2 separate regions of the Homo sapiens genome follow, and region 2 is linked to region 1. Evidence: fine-mapped expression QTL. A gene starts in region 1. The other region holds a variant in brackets. All regions are shown on one strand. Distances are between the middles of the regions.

Region 1 (9,542 bases):
AAATGGAATTCATAATTCCATAAATTAAGGATTGGAACCAAGTAGGGCAGAGAGCTCTGGGTGGGCACCAAGGAAAAGCTGCTTATTACGGGAAGAATGTGGATCACAGTGATGCAGAATTGGTGAGCACACTGGTCAGGGTGAGCCCCTTACTTCCTTGATCACAGCTGTCATTTTTTAATACTAATTGGACAGTCACACAGGTCTTCTGTTTTCTGTTTACATGTTATTTTCCCTAAATTCATCACATCAGTAATATCTCGAGTAGGCACACTTTATTTTTCCTGTTGTACCAATAGTAGCTGGTTGTGTAAAATTCAAGTCCCAAATAAAATCCGATAGTAATCGATTGATGACATCATCATTGGAGTGGAAGTCACAGGTTAAGCCTAAACTAAATTATCCTTACATGTTCAGGCTACGTCTAAACATCTGAGAACCGGTGAGACAGACCTACTAGGAATCTCTTTACCATAAAGAATGAGACGTCGTCCCCTTCAGTAATCAGTCCTCTGAATGGGGAAAGCAAGCCAGTAAGACACGGTGGTGCCGTGATGGAGAGCAGGTGTGATTTTGAGTACAGCATGAAGTCTGTAACTTCACCATCTATTACAGTTCCCATCAATTGTTTTTGGTGTTAGGAGAGAGTAGCAAGTTAAACAGAAAGATGTATTTGTCAAAACACCTGTCAGACATCAACAAGCTCAGAGCAGGTCTCATTTGAAACTCATGAAAGGGTGCCTCAAAGTAGGGGAGGGAGATTATGCTGAGTCAGTGGAGAACTCTGTAAGGTACAGTCACCTCAAAGCAGGGACAGCGTGCTGGCAGTCCTTGCTCGCTCTGGGGGCCTCCTCGGCCTTGGCGCCCACTCCAGCAGCGCTTGAGGAGCCCTTCAGCCCGCCGCTGCACTGTGGGAGCCCCTTTCTGGGCTGGCCAAGGCCAGAAGCGGCTCCCTCAGCTTGCGGGGAGGTGTGGAGGGAGAGGCGCGGGCGGGAACCAGGGCTGCGCGCGGCGCTTGTGGGCCAGCGCGAGTTCCGGGTGGGCGTGGGCTTGGCGGGCCCCGCACTCGGAGCGGCCAGCGGGTCCGGGCAGTGAAGGGCTTAGCACCTGGGCCAGCAGCTGCTGTGCTCTATGTCTCGCTAGGCCTTACCTGCTCCGCCGTGGGGCAAGGCTCGGGACCTGCAGCCTACCATGCCTGAGCCTCCCCGACGAGCGCCACCCCCAGCTCCACAGCGCCCAGTCCCATCGACCACCCAAGGGCTGAGGAGTGCTGGCGCACCGCGCGGGACTCGCAGGCAGCTCCACCTGCAGCCCCGGTGTGGGATCCACTGGGTGAAACCAGCTGGGCTCCTGAATCTAGTGGAGATTTAGAGAATCTTTCTGCCTAGCTGAGGGATTATAAACACACCAATCAGCACTCTGTATCTAACTCAAGGTTTATAAACACACCAATCAGCACACTGTATCTAGCTCAGGGTTTGTGAATGCACCAATTGGCACTCTAATCTGGTGGGGATTTGGAGAATGTCTAACTAAGGGATTGTGAATGTACCAATCAGCACTGTGTCTAGCCCAGGGTTTGTGAACACACCAATTGACACTCTGTGTATAGCTAACCCAGTGGGGACATGGAGAACTTTGTGTCTAGCTCACCAATTGAAAACACACCAATCAGCTCTAAAATAAACCAACCAGCAGAATGTGAAGCCAAATAAACGGAAAAAAAAGCAGGCTGCCTGAATCAGTGGCAACCTGCTCAGGTCCCACTCCAGTGTCCAGAATTGGGGGCTCATTAGCCTCCCTGACTTAAAGAATGAAGCTACAGACCCTCACAGTGAGTACTACAGTTCTTAAAGGCAGTGTATCCGGAGTTTCTTCCTTCTGGTGGGCTTGTAATCTCACTAGCCCAAGAGTAAACCCACAGACCTCCACAGTGAGCGTTACAGCTCTTAAGGTGGCATATCTTGAGTTATTCATTCTTCCTGGCGGGTTCGTGATTTCCCTAGCTTCAGGAGCGAAGCTGCAGACCTTCATAATGAGTGTTATAACTCATAAAGGCAATATGAGCTTAAAGAGCAAAAGAACAGATATTTTCCCAGCATGGAAAGAAACTGGAGCCTGTTGTCGCTGCTAAGCTCAGGGCAGCCTGCTTTTATTCTTATCTGGCCCCACCCACACCCTGCTGATTGGTAGAGCCGAGTGGCCTGTTTTGACTGGGCACTGATTGGTGCGTTTACAATCCCTGAGCTAGACACAAAGGTTCTCCACGTCCCCACTAGATTAGCTAGATACAGAGCGTGGACGCAAAGGTTCTCCAAGGTCCCACCAGAGTAGCTAGATACAAAGTGTCGATTGGTGCATTCACAAAGCCTGAGCTAGACACAGGGTGCTGATTGGTGTGTTTACAATCCCTGAGCTAGACATAAAGGTTCTCCACGTCTCCACCAGACTCAGAAGCCCAGCTGGCTTCACCCCGTGGAACCCGTACTGGGGCTGCAGGTGGAGCTGTCTGCCAGTCCCATGCCTGTGCACCTGTACTGATCAGCCCTTGGGTGGTGGAAGGAACTGGGCACCGTGCAGCAGGGGGTGGCGCTGGTCGGGGAGATTCCGGCTGCACAGAAGCCCATGGGGTTGGGGGAGGCTCAGACATGGTGGGCTGCAGGTCCCGAGCCCTGCCCCGCGGGAAGGCAGCTAAGGCCCGGTGAGAAATCGAGCACAGCAGCTGCTGGCCCAGGTTCTAAGCCCCTCACTGCCCCCCGCCTGGCCCAGTTGGCCGCTCCCACTGCAGGGCCCGCCAAGCCCACGCCCACCCGGAACTCGCACTGGCTGGCAAGCACCGCGCGTAACCCCAGTTCCCGCCCGCCCACGCCTCTCTCCACACCTTCCCGGCAAGCTGAGGGAGCTGGCTCCGGCCTTGGCCAGCCCAGAAAGGGGCTCCCACAGTGCAGCGGTGGGCTGAAGAGCTCCTCAAGTGCCACCAAAGTGGGGGCCCAGGCAGAGGAGGCGCCGAGAGCGAGCGAGGGCTGAGTACTGCCAGCATGCTGTCACCTCTCAGAAGCTTTGTTTTTTGCAATAAATCTTGCTGCTGCTCACTGCCTTTATGAGCTGTAACACTCACCGCGAAGGTCTGCAGCTTCACTCCTAAAGCCACCGAGACTATGAACCCACCAGGAGGAATGGACACCTTAACAGCTGTAACACTCACTGCGATGGTCTAGTAGCTTCACTCCTGAGCCAGTGAGACCATGAACCCACCAGAAGGAAGAAACTCGGAACACATCCGAACATGATGAAGGAACAAACTCTGGACTTTAAGAACTGTAACACTCAGCACGAGGGTCTGCGGTTTCAGTCTTAAAGTCAGTGAGACCAAGAACCCTATTCCAGACACAGCTCTGACATAGAGTGGCAACACTGGTAGCGTGCACAGGAGCAGAGGCAGCAGCAAAGTGAGAGGAGGCCCTCCACTTATGCTGGGCGCCCTAGTAGCAGCAGCAACACAGCAGCGGTGCCACTGGTGGCCTGGCAGAGTGGAATTTGGTTGATTCAGCCCAGCACCATCAGGCTGTGACTTTAGCAGACTGTAGGTAGTGGTGGCAGTGGGTCCAAGCTGCATTTACAGCCCCCAGGACAAGGAGACCTGAAGCGGAAACAATGCAGGAGTAGAACAGCAAATGTCCTAGGTCAGTAGTGTATGGAATCTGGAACCAGATAGCCTTGTTCAAATCTTGCATCTGCCGTTTGCTAGCGTTTTGAAGCTTTGAGTAAATTACTAACCTCTCTGGGTCTGTTTTCTCCTCAGTAAATAATATCCAGCTCATAGAGAGGTTTAGAAAATTAAATGAAAAAGCACAGCTCTAAGGAGGTGATTGACAATAGTAAGCATATGATTTATTTCCTCATCTTTATGACATCTCACTCTGGTCCAGACCAAGATTACTTAATATTCAGATTAATTTCATGAACTGCTATATTACTCCAGCAACTCAAATCCAAAATAGATGAAAAGGAAACTAAAGAAAACTGGACAGCCATTGCTGCACCTATTGTATAGTTACAAATGCTGACTACATACCAAAACACTGTTTAGGTGACTTATAATTCTGGAATGTCACATACGAATTTAAGAATTGCTGGCCAGGCGCAGTGGCTCACACCTGTAATCCCAGCACTTTGAGAGACCCAGGCGGGTGGATCACCTGAGGTCAGGAGTTTGAGATTAGTCTGGCCAACATGGTGAAACCCCCGTCTCCAGTAAAAATACAAAAATTAGCCGGGCGTAGTGGTGCGCGCCTGTAGTCCCAGCTGCTTAGGAGGCTGAGGCGGGAGAATCGCTTGAACCCGGGAGGCGGAGGTTGCGGTGAACAGAGATGGTGCCACTGAACTCTGGCCTGGGCGACAGAGCAAGACTTCGTCTCAAAAATAATAATTTAAGAATTGTCATTACTTAACCATGGGAGAGGGTGTGGGCAGACAGGGGACAAAGATTTTCCACTGTGTATTTTCATGGTTTTTCCTTTGAACAATGTCCTCTCTTCCAACAAAATTTTTTGCTTTTAAGTGCCACATAAAGGCAGCTCATGTTCCTTACATCGCCGTTATCAAGAGGATCGTCATTCAAATAAAGTAACCACTGACAATGCTAATTAATTGGAAGTAAAGAACTGGGCGGAAAGAACGGCTAACCGCAAGCTGCCGGGTCGCAACTGCGGCGGAAGGCGGACTCTCGCGGGAGCCACAAAGAGGCAGCAGCCGGCCACGTGACTTCCCGGTGGCCTGCTCTCCCCACCTCTCCGCGCTGAGCAGCCACGTCGGCGGCGGTCCCTGGTCCAGGGAGGGGCGTGGCAAAGGCCCGTGCGCGGTACGTGTCCCGCCCCTCGCTGCCCGGAGCCCGGATGAAGAGTAACGCCATTACCGCCGGAGCCGCCGAGAGCCTTAGCCGACGGAAACTGGACACTGGACCGGCAGCGCCATGAGACTCCTCCCCCGCTTGCTGCTGCTTCTCTTACTCGTGTTCCCTGCCACTGTCTTGTTCCGAGGCGGCCCCAGAGGTGAGGCTGGGGGAGTGTGCGGAGGGGATGGCCAGGAAGGAGATGCCAGTGATGGCAAGTTTGAAGTTGGAGGCGGTGGCCGCTCCGGGTCCTGGGGTCCGCGTCCACCCCGCTGGCCTCTCTCCGCCCTCTCCCCAAGCCTAGGCTCGTAGCAGCAGGGGTCCCCGCGGGCGCTGGAGACCCCGCTGCGGCCTGCCCCTTGCACGCGGAGCGCGGGGCCGTGCCCGGGCGACCTTGCTTCGTGGCCGGCCGAGGGCTGGGCTTGCTCCTCTTGCCCTGGACCCTCGCCTGCAGGAGCGGCCAGAACTGGAGGGTCCTCGGCTGCAGGAGGAGGCGCTGGACACGGCTGCGCTCCGAGCGCGCCGCAGCCGGGCTGTTTCTTTTGGCCACCTCCGGCTCCGCTCCACCCCCAGCCCCTCGCGCTCAGGGCTGACGTGTCTTTAGCTTCCACGCCGGGAGTCCGTCTTCATTCATTTGCCAAAACCCTTGTTTTCTACACATCTAAGCCATCAGAGTGTCTTGTTCAATGGTCATCTGCCTTGTTCACGCCCTGCTTGACCCGTATGTGTTACTAGGAGGCTTGATTTCAGAAAAACTACCCCATCGTCACCCCCGTTATCCGCCCCTGCTGCCAAGCAGACTGAAGAATCCCTGTGGGATGTCTCCCTTCTGCCTTCTTCCTCTTCTTGTCTTTCCATGGAACAATTTTTTGTTTGTGGAAACATCGTATTGTGCTGAAAAAATGTGGCCTACTTCGAGTGTTTTTAATACATAGATTTATTCTTTCAACAATTAACCCAGCAATTAAGTGTGAAAATAACTTAGCAGAATATAAAAATATGGCAACTTGACTTCCTGCACAGGTTTTGTCGTGAACTTCGACTTTCTAATTTGTAAAGTGAAATAATTAGTCTGACTAAGCATCCCTTTCATTCTGTAAGTTTAAGCAAGCTGTGTGTCTTAACGGTAGTGACAGGTATTCACGAGTTGTTTTGCGATGAAAAGTGAAGTGACTGGCTTCTGTTTAATGGCTAGAAAACCAAGTGGGAGAATTAAACAACTGTTAATGAGTTAATCTGCAGGTTTAACAAGATTTTTTACTTTAGGAGTCGTTTGCTGGTACTCTTTAAGCTTTTTAAAAGAAAACTTGACAAATGTAGTTTTAGTTTTAGAACTATTTATAACTATTTTCAAGTTATAAAAACTTTCAAGAAGCATGAATTCATTATCTAAACTGAATTAATATCTTGTAAACATTTTTTGTGAGAAACGGTTTTTGTGTTTGGTTTTTCCAGTTGAATGAAGACTGTTAGACTTCATGGGGACAAAATTGTTATTGGTTAACATTAAAATAATAAAATTGTTTAATATTTATGAAAGGCCTTTATATTCCAAAGTGCTCAAATTTAACCACGACTTTAAATTACTATATCAGACATGGTATTTTTCTTACTGGTTTTTGAAAAGGACTTGTAAGTTATGAATGCACTATTTTAGGCTTTGTTCAGCAGGCAGTGAAATCTCTTTAGTTCATAATGCATGGTTCAGTGTTCTTTAATATTTTGCAATAAATCTTAGCAGCCAGTGAGAACTTAAAGACATGGAAAAGACTGCAAATGCATGGTCCTTAACTGTTTCTCCTGGGTGAAAACACGCTTCCCTTCCCATGTTTTTTATCCACAGAATTGCCACATCATCATTTTTTCTGAGAGATGTTGGAAGACACTAGAACTTTGAAATTCTTTTTATGGTCTTGCCTGAAATAGATATAATGTGACTTACTTAGAGTACTATTGTCTATAAAACTGTGATTCACCTTTTTTTTGCATTATACCTGTACTTTGTAACACTAAGTTTGAGAAAAAATATCTTAAAACATGTTTGAAGCCACATGCAAAAATAATTGGATTCTTTCTTTGCTATCAAACCTGAAGCTACCAATACAGTTTTTACTAAACAATGTTTTTCATGCAAGCCAGTTTTTACCATGGATATGATTACAGATATTTGTTCCTTGGCTTACAAACTATCCAGTTCTAAGAGTTTCAGCTGTAGTCACCTCTGATAACAGTGTTTCCTACATAGAACATTAGAACTTAAGAATGCTTTATTTTTTTATTTTTATTTTTTTGAGACGGTGTCTTGCTGTGTCGCCCAGGCTGGAGTGCAGTGGTACAATCTTGGCTCACTGCAACTTCTGCCTCCTGGGTTCAAGCGATTCTCCTGCCTCAGCCTCTGGAGTAGCTGGAACCACAGGTGTGTGCCACCACACCCAGCTAATTTTTGCATTTTCAGTAGAGGCGGGGTTTCTCTGTATTGGCCAGGCTGGTCTTGAACTCCTGGCCTCAAGTAATTCACCCTCCTCAGCCTTCTAAAGTGCTGGGATTACAGGCGTGAGCCACCGCGCCGGCCAAGAATGCTGTTTTCTTTTAAACGTGGGGGTTGTTTAGTTTGCTTTGTATGGTTAATGACAGGGATTACATTTAGAAGTTTCTTATCTTTGCAAAAAATTATTTTCCTTAATTTGCTTAACAAAGTTGCTTGAAGTTCTTTGTGCTTCAAGGCATCTTTAGTTTGTGCCATTCATTTTTCCATCTGTTGGGCACTTTTTGAAGTTAAACCACATTTCCCATTAAAAATAACATGGAAGGCAGGGAACAGTGGTTCACGCCTCTAGTCCTAGCTACCCAGGAAGCTGAGGTGGAAGGATCACTTGGGCCCAGGAGTTTGAGGCTGCAGTGAGCTATGACTGCACAACTGTACTCCCAACCTAGGCATCAGAGCAAGACCCTGACTCTTAAAAAAAAAAAAAAAAAATTGATATGCAGTTGTTAAGACTACTAGTAAACTAAAATATAAATATTCTTCGGTGCATTGTAATTGGCATCATTCAGGTGAACTGGGAGATTCTGTTAGTCCAAGGGAAGTTTTTTTTGCCTATACCTGATGTTAAAAAAAGAAATTAGTATTTCAGAGTAAAGGGTAACTGCTTTTTCTGTATTTTATCATTAGGCTTGTTAGCAGTGGCACAAGATCTTACAGAGGATGAAGAAACAGTAGAAGATTCCATAATTGAGGATGAAGATGATGAAGCCGAGGTAGAAGAAGATGAACCCACAGATTTGGTTAGTGTTACATACTATTTAATATATGTAAAATGTATGTAATTGTATTCATCTGTTCTCATGCTGCTAATAAAGACATACCCAAGACTGGGTAATTTATAAAGGAAAAAGGTTTCATTGACCCACAGTTCAGCATGACTGGGGAGGCCTCAGGAAACTTACCATCATGGCAGAAATTGAAGCAAACATGTCCTTCTTCACAAGGTGACAGCAAGGAGAAGTGCAGAGCAAAGGGTGGGGAAAGCCCCTTATAAAAACCATCAGATCTTGTGAGAACTCACTTTCACGAGAACAGCATGGAGGTAACCGTCCCCGTGATTCATTTACCTCCCACCAGGTTCCTCCCACGATGTGCAGATTATGGGAACTACACTTCAAGATGAGATTTGGTTGGGGACACAGCAAAACCGTTATCAATAGTACATCTAGAATTTATCCTTACTTATTTATTTTTAGAGACAGAGACTTGCTCTGTTCCCCAGGCTGGAGTGCAGTGGCACGAGCATAGCTCACTGCAGCCTCGAACTCCTGGGCTCAAGTGATCCTCTTGCCTCAGCCTCCTGAGTAGCTAGGACTACCGTCATGCCCCAACAAGCCCGGCTAATTTTTGTAATTTTTTTTTGTAGAGACAGGGTCTTGCTATGTTGCCCAGGCTAGTCTAAAACTTCTGGGCTCAAGTGATGATCCTCATGCCTCGGACTCTGAAGGCACTGGGATTATGGGCATGAGCCACCACACCTGGCCTAGAGCTTATCCTTATACAAAAATTTAAAATCCCAACTTTTAGAGGTTTGTTAATGTGATCAAAGTGAATTGAAGTTGGGAGAATAGGCACCAGTCATTGAGAACAGAGCATAAGTATTTTCTGGAACAGGGAAGGAGACATGAAATAGTTAACAATTCAGGATCGTGGTGACATGAGTCTAGAAGGGTAACAACATAGTAGAAATAGCACTGGACCTCATGGTTTCATAGATTTGGAATACCTGCTGCTTCCTTTTCTGACTTATCTCTGTGGGTCTCAGTTTCTTTTTCGCTTGCTTGCTTTTACTCTGTTTTTATTCTTTTTGCTTGCTTGTTGTATTTCTGAATCCTTATGTGCCAGGCACTGTTCTTGGTGCTGGGTGGGCAAACCAGATATTTTCTCTGCTCTTTCAGACTTTTTTTTGGGGCAGTTATATGTGTTTTAATGGCAGGGGGTGAGAAGCAGACAACAAACAGTATGTAAAATATATCTGGTGAAGAATAAGGGGGTTAGAGAAGATCTCTTAAAAGTTGTTCAGCTCTGAAATGTTTACTATGTAATACAACAGTAAGAATATTGGGCTGGAATTGGGATCATTGCAGCATGCATCTAGTTAATTTT
Region 2 (8,539 bases), 31 kb after region 1:
ATATCATCTGAGGTTCTAAGGTTTTTTTTTTAGATTTTGAAATTTAGGGATAATAGCTCTTAGGTTTGGGTACCACTTTGCTGCAGTTTAAGAAAGGGGGAAGGGAACTCATTTATTAAACATCAATCACGTGCTGTGTTCTGTTTGTTTTCTAGTCATCATATCACACACCTTTACGACAGCTCACTGAAGGAAGGTGATACTGTTCCCATTTTGTAGATGGAATAGACAAAACCTGAATTTAAGTAGCTTGCTCAAGGTTCCATATTGAATATGGAAAGTTCAAATCATCTCAGTAATGAATATACCATATATACTTGCTGTATTGTATCTATGATAATTCAGTTACCCACAATACCCTTTTAAATTTCTGTTAATGACATACCTTTAAATGTCTCCTTGATGAACAGAATCATGGTCTTTAAAAACATTTTCATGGGTTGATTGCATTTTCAAGCTCTAAAGGATTGAAAGATAAATCTTCACGTTAAAGGTAAGAGTGAAGTATCTGCTCTTGGGTTACAGAACCAGATAGTACTAGAACTAAGATTACAGGGTAAAGCTGCTTTTATCTTTTTTCTTTTTCTTTTTCTTTTTTTTTTTGACATGGGGTCTCACTGTATTGCCCAGGCTGGAATGCAGTGGCATGATCTCAGCTCACGGCAGCCTCTGCCTCTTGGGCTCAAGCGATTCTCCTGCTTCAGCTTTCCAAGTATTTGGGACCACAGGCGCACACCACAGGCCTGGCTAATGTTTTTGTTTTGTTTTTGGTAGAGACGGGGTTTCACCATGTTGCCAGGCTGGTCTCGAACTCCTGAGCTCAAGTGATTCACCCACCTTGGCCTCACAAAGTGTCAGGCTTACAGGCGTGAGCCACTGCGCCCGGCTCACAGGGTAAGGCTTCTGTCTGGTGTGTTGTATTACGGATTTTGCTTAATAGGCACAGTGAGGCATTAAAAAGAAAATTCAGTATGCCTGTAGAAAGGATAATCCTTGTTTAAAGTCTCCAAATTGCAGTCAAAGATGTTTTGACTGTGCCTTTTTTTGTTCCCCTGCTGTCCCTTATGTAGACTTCTGTCAGTACCCATGGCAGCCTGTCATCTTGTTGACATCTCCTTCTGGACTGTGAGCTCTGTATCTGGCTTGTTTTTCATCCCCAGCTTCTAGTTCACAATTAGGTAGAACCCTATTACTCTTTGAAGAAGGAACAAGAAAATGTGGGCCAGTTTTCATTTGCCATTCTTCCATGTGAGTTAGTATGGTTCGTAAGTATTCCTGGTGATACGCTAGTATTGGCAATTCTGTGAGGTTGAACAAAGGGGTGGTATGGTGTGCTAGCGTGGGAATTAGGAGACCTCTGGGTCTTGACAGTGCCCTGGCCACTAAGCAAAGGCAGTTCATCCTTGGAGTCTCAATGTGCTTTTTTGTTAATTGAGATATGCTTGAAGTATCAGCCCTAAATAGTCTGATTCTGTGACCTACAAACCCTTACTTAATTCAGTGTTACTATAAATGATTCTTCCCTTAAACCTACTTTTTACTTAGCAAAAGAGAAAAAAAAAAAAAGGAAACGCTCATGTCAGGCTGCCTGGGTTTGAACCCCAGATCCCCTCTTAGTTGGAGGCAAGTTGTATGATGCTTCAGCTTTTGGTTCCTGCCTCCTAAGGTTGTTAGGAGTTACTGTGTGTAGCTGCTTAGAACATTGCCTGGGTCTCAGTAAGCCGCTTAAGTGACTGCTCTCATTTTCGCTGTAAAGCACCATACTGTAATAACATCCCATGAAGCATGGGGCGGGGAAGAGTATATGGTACCTTATGGACTTTGATGTGGTGGGGTAGTAGGTAAATTCTGAATATGTAAGCTACATAGTATTCTTTTTGTAACTAAAGGATAAAAGTTTTAAGATGGGCATGTAATATGGCTAGCACTGGATTTTAATGATGAGCCAGAGTAATAAGGCTGGCAAGGGGAGTTTTTGTTTTGTAATAAATCTCTTACACCTGCACATCCAGTTCTTTTTAAAAACACGTTTGAAGAGGCTCCATATTTCTCAGTGAAGCTGTTGGGGTTCATGTTATTTTTGAAAATCATCTTGCAATTTATTTCAGCATCAGACTGAACCACCCAAAGAAAATTAGTCTATTTCTGAACAGTTTTTTCAGAAACCATATTGGTCTGATCACCCAACATTTATAGAAATAGGCGCTTAAGGCCTAGAGGCATTTCAGAAAGGAGAATGAGAAATACTGTGGTCAAGAGTAGTGTTCAGATGGAGAACATCAAGCATCTGCTCTGCCCTTCCACACACATCCTCATTTCATCTTCACAACTGCCCTAGGTAACCTTGTTATCTGTAATGAAACAGCCTCAAGGAGCACAGAGGCACTCACTCCTCACGTTTGGTCTGTTGCCATTTCCGGCTTGGTTGGAATAGGGTAGGAGCCTTTTGGCAGGGAGCACATTCTCAGTAATGCAGAGTGCACTCACCTGGGTTCTAGCTTCAACACTTAGGATTTGCTTGATATTTTGTATTCTCTGAGGCACTGCCTGTATTTGTTTCTGCTATCACAGTCCAGAGTCAAGCTTCATTTATAAAGACTGGGCAGGGCATGGTGGCTCACTCCTGTAATTCCAGCACTTTGGGAGGCTGAGGTGGGTGGATCACTTTAGGTCAGGAGTTCAAGACCAGCCTGGCCAACATGGTGAAACCCCATCTCTACTAAAAAATACAAAAAGGCCGGGCACGGTGGCTCACACCTGTAATCCCAACACTTTGGGAGGCCAAGGTGGGCAGAACACCTGAGGTCAGGAGTTCAAGACCATCCTGGCGAACATAGTGAAACCTCGCCTCTACTAAAAATACAAAAATTAGCCAGGTGTGGTGGTGCATGCCTGTAATCCCAGCTACTTGGGAGGCTGAGGCAGGAGAATTGCTTAAACCTGGGAGGTGGAGATTGTGGTGAGCTGAGATCGTGCCACTGCACTCCAGCCTGGGAGATAGAACGAGACTCCATCTCAAAAAAGAACAAAAACAATTAGCCGAGCGAGGTGGTGCACGCCTGTAATCCCAGCTACTCATGAGGCTGAGGCAGGAGAATCACTTGAACCCAGGAGGAGGAGGTTGTAGTGAGTCAAGGTTGCACCACTGCACTCCAGCCTGGGTGACAGAGTGAGACTGTCTCAAAAAATAAGTACATAAATAATAAGTAAAAGCTACTAACAATTAAAAAATAAATAAATAAAGACAAGACTGTCTGGAAAATGGCTCTCCTAAAAGGACCAGTTGCCATCATCCACAGTGGAAGATTCAAAGCAGTTGGTCCTTGGTACGTATGAGAAGCGGATTTCATTCCCTTGAATTCTACAGAGCAGTTTATTAGAGTGAATGCATTTTAAGGCCTTGCATTTGATATGTCATCCAGTTCATAATCAAGTTGCCTTTTTCTGGCTAAAACATAATGATTATGTATTTTTCTCATTTGGTCCTACAAGCTGCTGGCCCTTTGTCCCTCCACTGTGGGAATCAGATCTAGAGGAGGCTGAGCCTGCAGACACAGCAGTGGCCAAAAGGTCACTCTAAGTGTTTTGTCTTGACTCCTTACTTGAAGTCCACCCAGCTAGCACACATCTGGTTTATACTGAAGCCCCCTGCCTAGAAATACTCATTTCAGGAACCACCAGTAAGCATCTGTGACCACACAGGCTTTTTGACTGATGGCTTCCCGGATCTGGTTTCAAGGGATAACCCCGTCTGTGTGCATCTATGGTCTTCTCTCTACAGCGAGGACTTTGCAGTGCTGCTTGTGGTCCACACAAGGGGCTCAGAGCTGAGTCTGAACTGCTTCATGGTCACCAGCTCCTGTCCCTTCCAGTCTTGAGAGGCTTTTTTCTCCAGATGGAACCTTTCCTTCCCGCCGTTTTCTCGGTCTCTGGCTGTTTTTCTCTTGTGCCCGTCTAATTGGACACCTCCTGGCTTCCATCTCTGTGGTTCTCCTGCCTCACTTCCTGTTCTGTTGTTTTTCCGTTTTGTCAAAATATCTCCTATGTTCTTGGCTTCCTTTTCGTCGCCAGGTTTTCAGCTTTCCTTTAGCTCTTCTTCTAATATGGCTTCTGCCCACAAAAGCCTGCTCTGTCAGGATCTCATGGTTCTCCACTTGCCAGAACCTTCTTCAGCCTCAGTTCCTCGGCCTCAACTTGTACGTTTAACCCATTGACCACCACCCCCCAAATTCACCTTCATTTCTTTGACCCTGCTCCTCACTCCTTTTCTGTTGAGGAATCTGTTGACTAACTCCAGGCTCACTCAGGCTCACCGTCCTGCTCTCTGCACCAGCCTTTCCAGAGC[G/A]TGCCAGTTCTCATGGCTTCATCTGTTAACTGTTGATCACTTCAGTCCTGATTTTTAGACCTAAATGGTTTCCTTAACGCCATTCTAACTGCCTGTGACTCATTTTCACTTACAGTGTTTATTGTAACGCCAAACCAACAAATCACAGGTGCTTGCTTCTCTCCATAAATCTCCCCAGTCTAACTTTTTGTCATTCAACATGACTCGTTTATCCAACCTGAAATCGCATATAGCCCCAAGTATGGTGTTTTGTACACAGGTATTTAATAAGTGACTTCCAGTTTTGGCTCTGCTATGAATAAAAAGAGATTTCAGTTCTCTTCACTTTGAAATCTAACAACTCAGAGAACATTGAAGAAATTGGAATTTAGTTGGGATGAAATACTTGTGGTTTAAAATATTTCTGTTCATATTTTCTAATTTGTTGCCGGAGGTCTTGGGTTTTCTATTTGAGTGCTTGCAAACTCAATGTGATTTCTGTCAGCATATCTTAGGTTTGTTTGTTATGAAACTTATGCAGTGTGAGGTTCTATCTGAAAATGTTATTTAGCTATCTTCTGGGACTATTTAATGAAAGTGGGGTCATGAATCCTTAAAATTCTTGTGCAGCTTTGAGAAACATTTCTGTTATTTGGGTATCAGTTTGTAAGTGTGGTAAAGCCAAGATGGAAACGAGCACTTTGCTTTCTTGGTTGTTGTTACTGGTCTAACCTCCTGCTTGAACTAGTCTGCTGTCCTGTCAAATGCATCTTTTTATTTACATGTCCCTTAAATTAAAGCTGATCATGAAAGTATTTGTGTGCAACATGAAATGTTTTCTAAAGTACCAGTGCATATTCCTGCTTGGTCTCAAGACGCACGAGGAATCCAAAATAGAAGCAAAAAAAGAAAAGAAAAAAAATCACAATTTTGATCGGAATGTCCTCCTGGAAATTATTTAAAAGTTTGGCCGGGCACGGTGGCTCACGCCTGTAATCCCAGCACTTTGGGAGGCTGAGGTGGATGGATCACAAGGTCAGGAGTTCAAGACTACCTTGACCAATATGGTGAAACCTCGTCTCTACTAAAAATACAAAAATTAGCTGGGCGTGGTGGCACGCGCCTGTAATCCCAGCTACTCATGAGGCTGAGGCAGGAGAATCACTTGAACCCGGGAGGCAGAGGTTGCAGTAAGCTGAGATCACGCCACTGCACTTCAGCCTGGGTGCTTCCGTCTCAAAAAAAAAAAAGTTCACACATTTTTAGACATTTCAGTGATGTTTTAGAATAAAGGTGATTTAAGATTGGTTTTACAGGCACTCTTGGGCTGTCAGCTAGTTGGCTTTTCAGATGATGATCATAAAGACACTCCCCCTCACGCAGGTATATGAGTAAGTAAGGTCTACCCCATCCACACTCCCATACTGACTTTCCATTCCCAATAATTGCACAGACTGCATACTCTGATCGCTTATTAAACATTTCTAAGGAAGCCGAGATGGATCTTTGATGTAATTTTCTCATCTGTATACCCAGCCAGTAAGTCAGTAGCACCTAAGATTTCTTTCCCTTCAAGATTGTATTCTAAGCAGTAGAATTAAAGTGTTCTTCATAGAAAAAGTAACTTTTAATTAGAGGCTGTGCAAACTCTGGAGAATCAGTCTTTGTTACCAGATAATAATGTTTTTAGCTTTTTCTGCTGAGAGGAAAAAATGCTTTGAAGAATAAAAAATACTAGAGCATAACAAGCTTGGGGAGTTAGGAAAAAATATATTAGGGCAGTAAGAACCAGCATTACGTCTTCTCTGCAATGCTTGAAACATTCAGTATTAAACTTTGGATTAATCCAAAGTCTGAAGAGAAATACACCAAAATGCTAAAGCCGTTTTTGGTTAGGATAGTGGACTTTTTTTTTCTTCTTCAGAATGTTTGTAATGAGCCTATATTTTATAATGGAAGCAATAAATGCAAATGTGAAATTTATCTGAGCCTCCTACAATGAGTATAATAAATCCAGTGGTTGTGGATAGCTTATTTGTGGCCCCAAAAGAAACGGAGCCACTTTTTAAAACTTGGATGCATTGTCACTACATAGTGAAAGAAAATCAAGATATTCTTTTTTTTTTTTTTTTAAACGGTGTCTCACTCTGTTGCGCAGCTGGAGTGCAATGGCGCAATCTTGGCTCACTGCAACCTCCGCCTCCCGGGTTCAAGCGATTATTCTGCCTCAGCTTCCTTAGTAGCTGGTATTACAGGAATGTGCCACCACGCCCAGCTAATTTTTGTATTTTTAATAGAGACGGGGTTTCACCATGTTGGTCAGGCTGGTTTTGAACTCCCAACCTCAGATGATCCACCTGCCTAGGCCTCCCAAAGTGCTGGGATTACAGGTGTGAGCCACCGCGCCCAGCCCAAGATAAGAGTCTTTTTTTGTTTTTGTTTTTTTGACACAGAGTCTTGCTCTGTCATCCAGGCTGGAGTGCAGTGGCGTGATCTCGGTTCACTGCAAGCTCCGCCTCCCGGGTTCACCCCATTCTCCTGTCTCAGCCTCCCGAGTAGCTGGGACTACAGGTGCCCGCCACCACACCCGCCTAATTTTTTGTATTTTTAGTAGAGACGGGGTTTCACCGTGTTAGCCAGGATGGTCTCGATCTCCTGACCTCGTGATCCACCCACCTTGGCCCCCCAAAGTGCTGGGATTACAGGCGTGAGCCACCGCACCCGGCCCCAAGATAGATTCTTAATAGAAAACCCTTGAAAGTATTTCTCCTTTTCAGGGACTCAGCCTTTCTCTTTGCTGTTTGTAAAAACATGAGCTCCTCTCTGCTGCCGAGTTGGTGCCAGGCCAGTGCTCAGTGCAGCCACTCCTGCCCCACCCCCTTGCCTCTCGGGCTTTATGCCCACAAGAGTCCAAGCCACTCTATCAGATCCTGACTCTTCTCTTCTGGAAACTCTCCTCTGGCTTCCACTGGCATCTAGGTGAGCACAAGTGCTCCACCACTGCCTGCAGGGCTCTCCAGTATCTCGCCCTCCCTGCCTTGCCCCTTCCTGTGCTGCCCTCCAGGCTTCCTGGCCAGCCACCTCCTCATCTTCTACCCTGCCAGGCTTGTCCAGGATCAGGGCCTTGGCAGTAATCCCCTCTGCCCAGGTCTCAGCCCCCATCTTCCCTGCTCTTAGTCTTCCTGAAAACTCCCCTCATGGAAGGCCCCACACACCCTGCTCTGTTCTCATTATCTTCACCACTATCAGAAGTTACCTTGGGCTGGCCGCAGTGGCTCACACCTGTAATCCCAGCACTTTGGGAGGCTGAGGTGGGCAGATCACTTGAGGTCAGGAGTTCGAGACCAACCTGGCCAACATGGTGAAACCCTGTGTCTACTAAAAATACAAAAATTAGCCAGGTGTGGCGCGCACCTGTAATCCCAGCTACTTGGAAAGCTGAGGCAGGAGAATCACTTGAACCCGGGAGGCAGAGGTTGCAGTGAGCCGAGATCATGCCACTGCACTGCAGCCTGGGCGACAGAGCAAGTCTCTCTGTCTCTCAGCCTGGGCGACAGAGCGAGACAGACTCTCTCTCTCTCTCTCTCTCTCTCTCTCACACACACACACACACACACACACACACACAGAAGTTACCTTGTCCTTCCATTGCCCATCACCCCTTGTGAATGTAAGCTTATGACAGCAAGAATTTTGTCACCAGCTCACCAAGTCTTAAAACAGGACCTGACACACGTGGTAGGTGTTTCATGTGAATTATTTATCACACTGTGAAGTAGGTGTATCTCCATTTTGCAAATAAGGAAATTGAACACAGGTTAAATTAACTTGCCAGAAATTCCACAACCGTTAAGTGGCAGAGCTGGACACAGGTTTGTGTGTCCTGTTCACAAATGCGTGCATCTCTGGCTGGGAACTTGCAGGGTTATGGATCAGACTGCTCCACCTTGAGAAGTGGAAATGGCATCTTGGTTGTACATTGCAGCTCAAACCAGGAAGCATTTACTAAAACAAAAACTTAACAGAAACTGGCAAGCAAGTGCATAGGCGTTGCTATAGATGGTTTCTGTGAAATTCCATTAGGTGAGTTCCATAAAGGGAAGTGAAACAATAGATCACAGCTGTAGCTTCAAAATAAAAAGTTGGTTCCTAAATTGAGTGAATTGTAATCTTAACTATTTTCTCCTTAAACGCATAATGACAAAGTTACCAAAT

What was found.
Region 2: its variant is fine-mapped to the expression of SSR1 in anterior cingulate cortex (GTEx, PIP 0.95).

The regions. Positions count from the first base shown.
Region 1 is chr6:7,308,551-7,318,092 of GRCh38, reverse strand. SSR1 (signal sequence receptor subunit 1) reads left to right here and starts at 4,894. Exons shown (of 8, transcript NM_003144.5): 1 at 4,894-5,051; 2 at 8,064-8,176. The coding sequence starts at 4,973. RefSeq lists enhancers at 4,519-4,578, 4,589-4,658, 3,995-4,861, 4,862-5,730 and silencers at 5,149-5,258, 5,389-5,438.
Region 2 is chr6:7,277,743-7,286,281 of GRCh38, reverse strand. It overlaps SSR1 (signal sequence receptor subunit 1), which reads left to right. Exons shown (of 8, transcript NM_003144.5): 8 at 1-5,139. Among named protein-coding and RNA genes, the nearest start is that of SSR1, 31 kb to the left of the region's middle. RefSeq lists a silencer at 4,340-4,540. The variant G/A (reference allele first, on the strand shown) is at 4,346.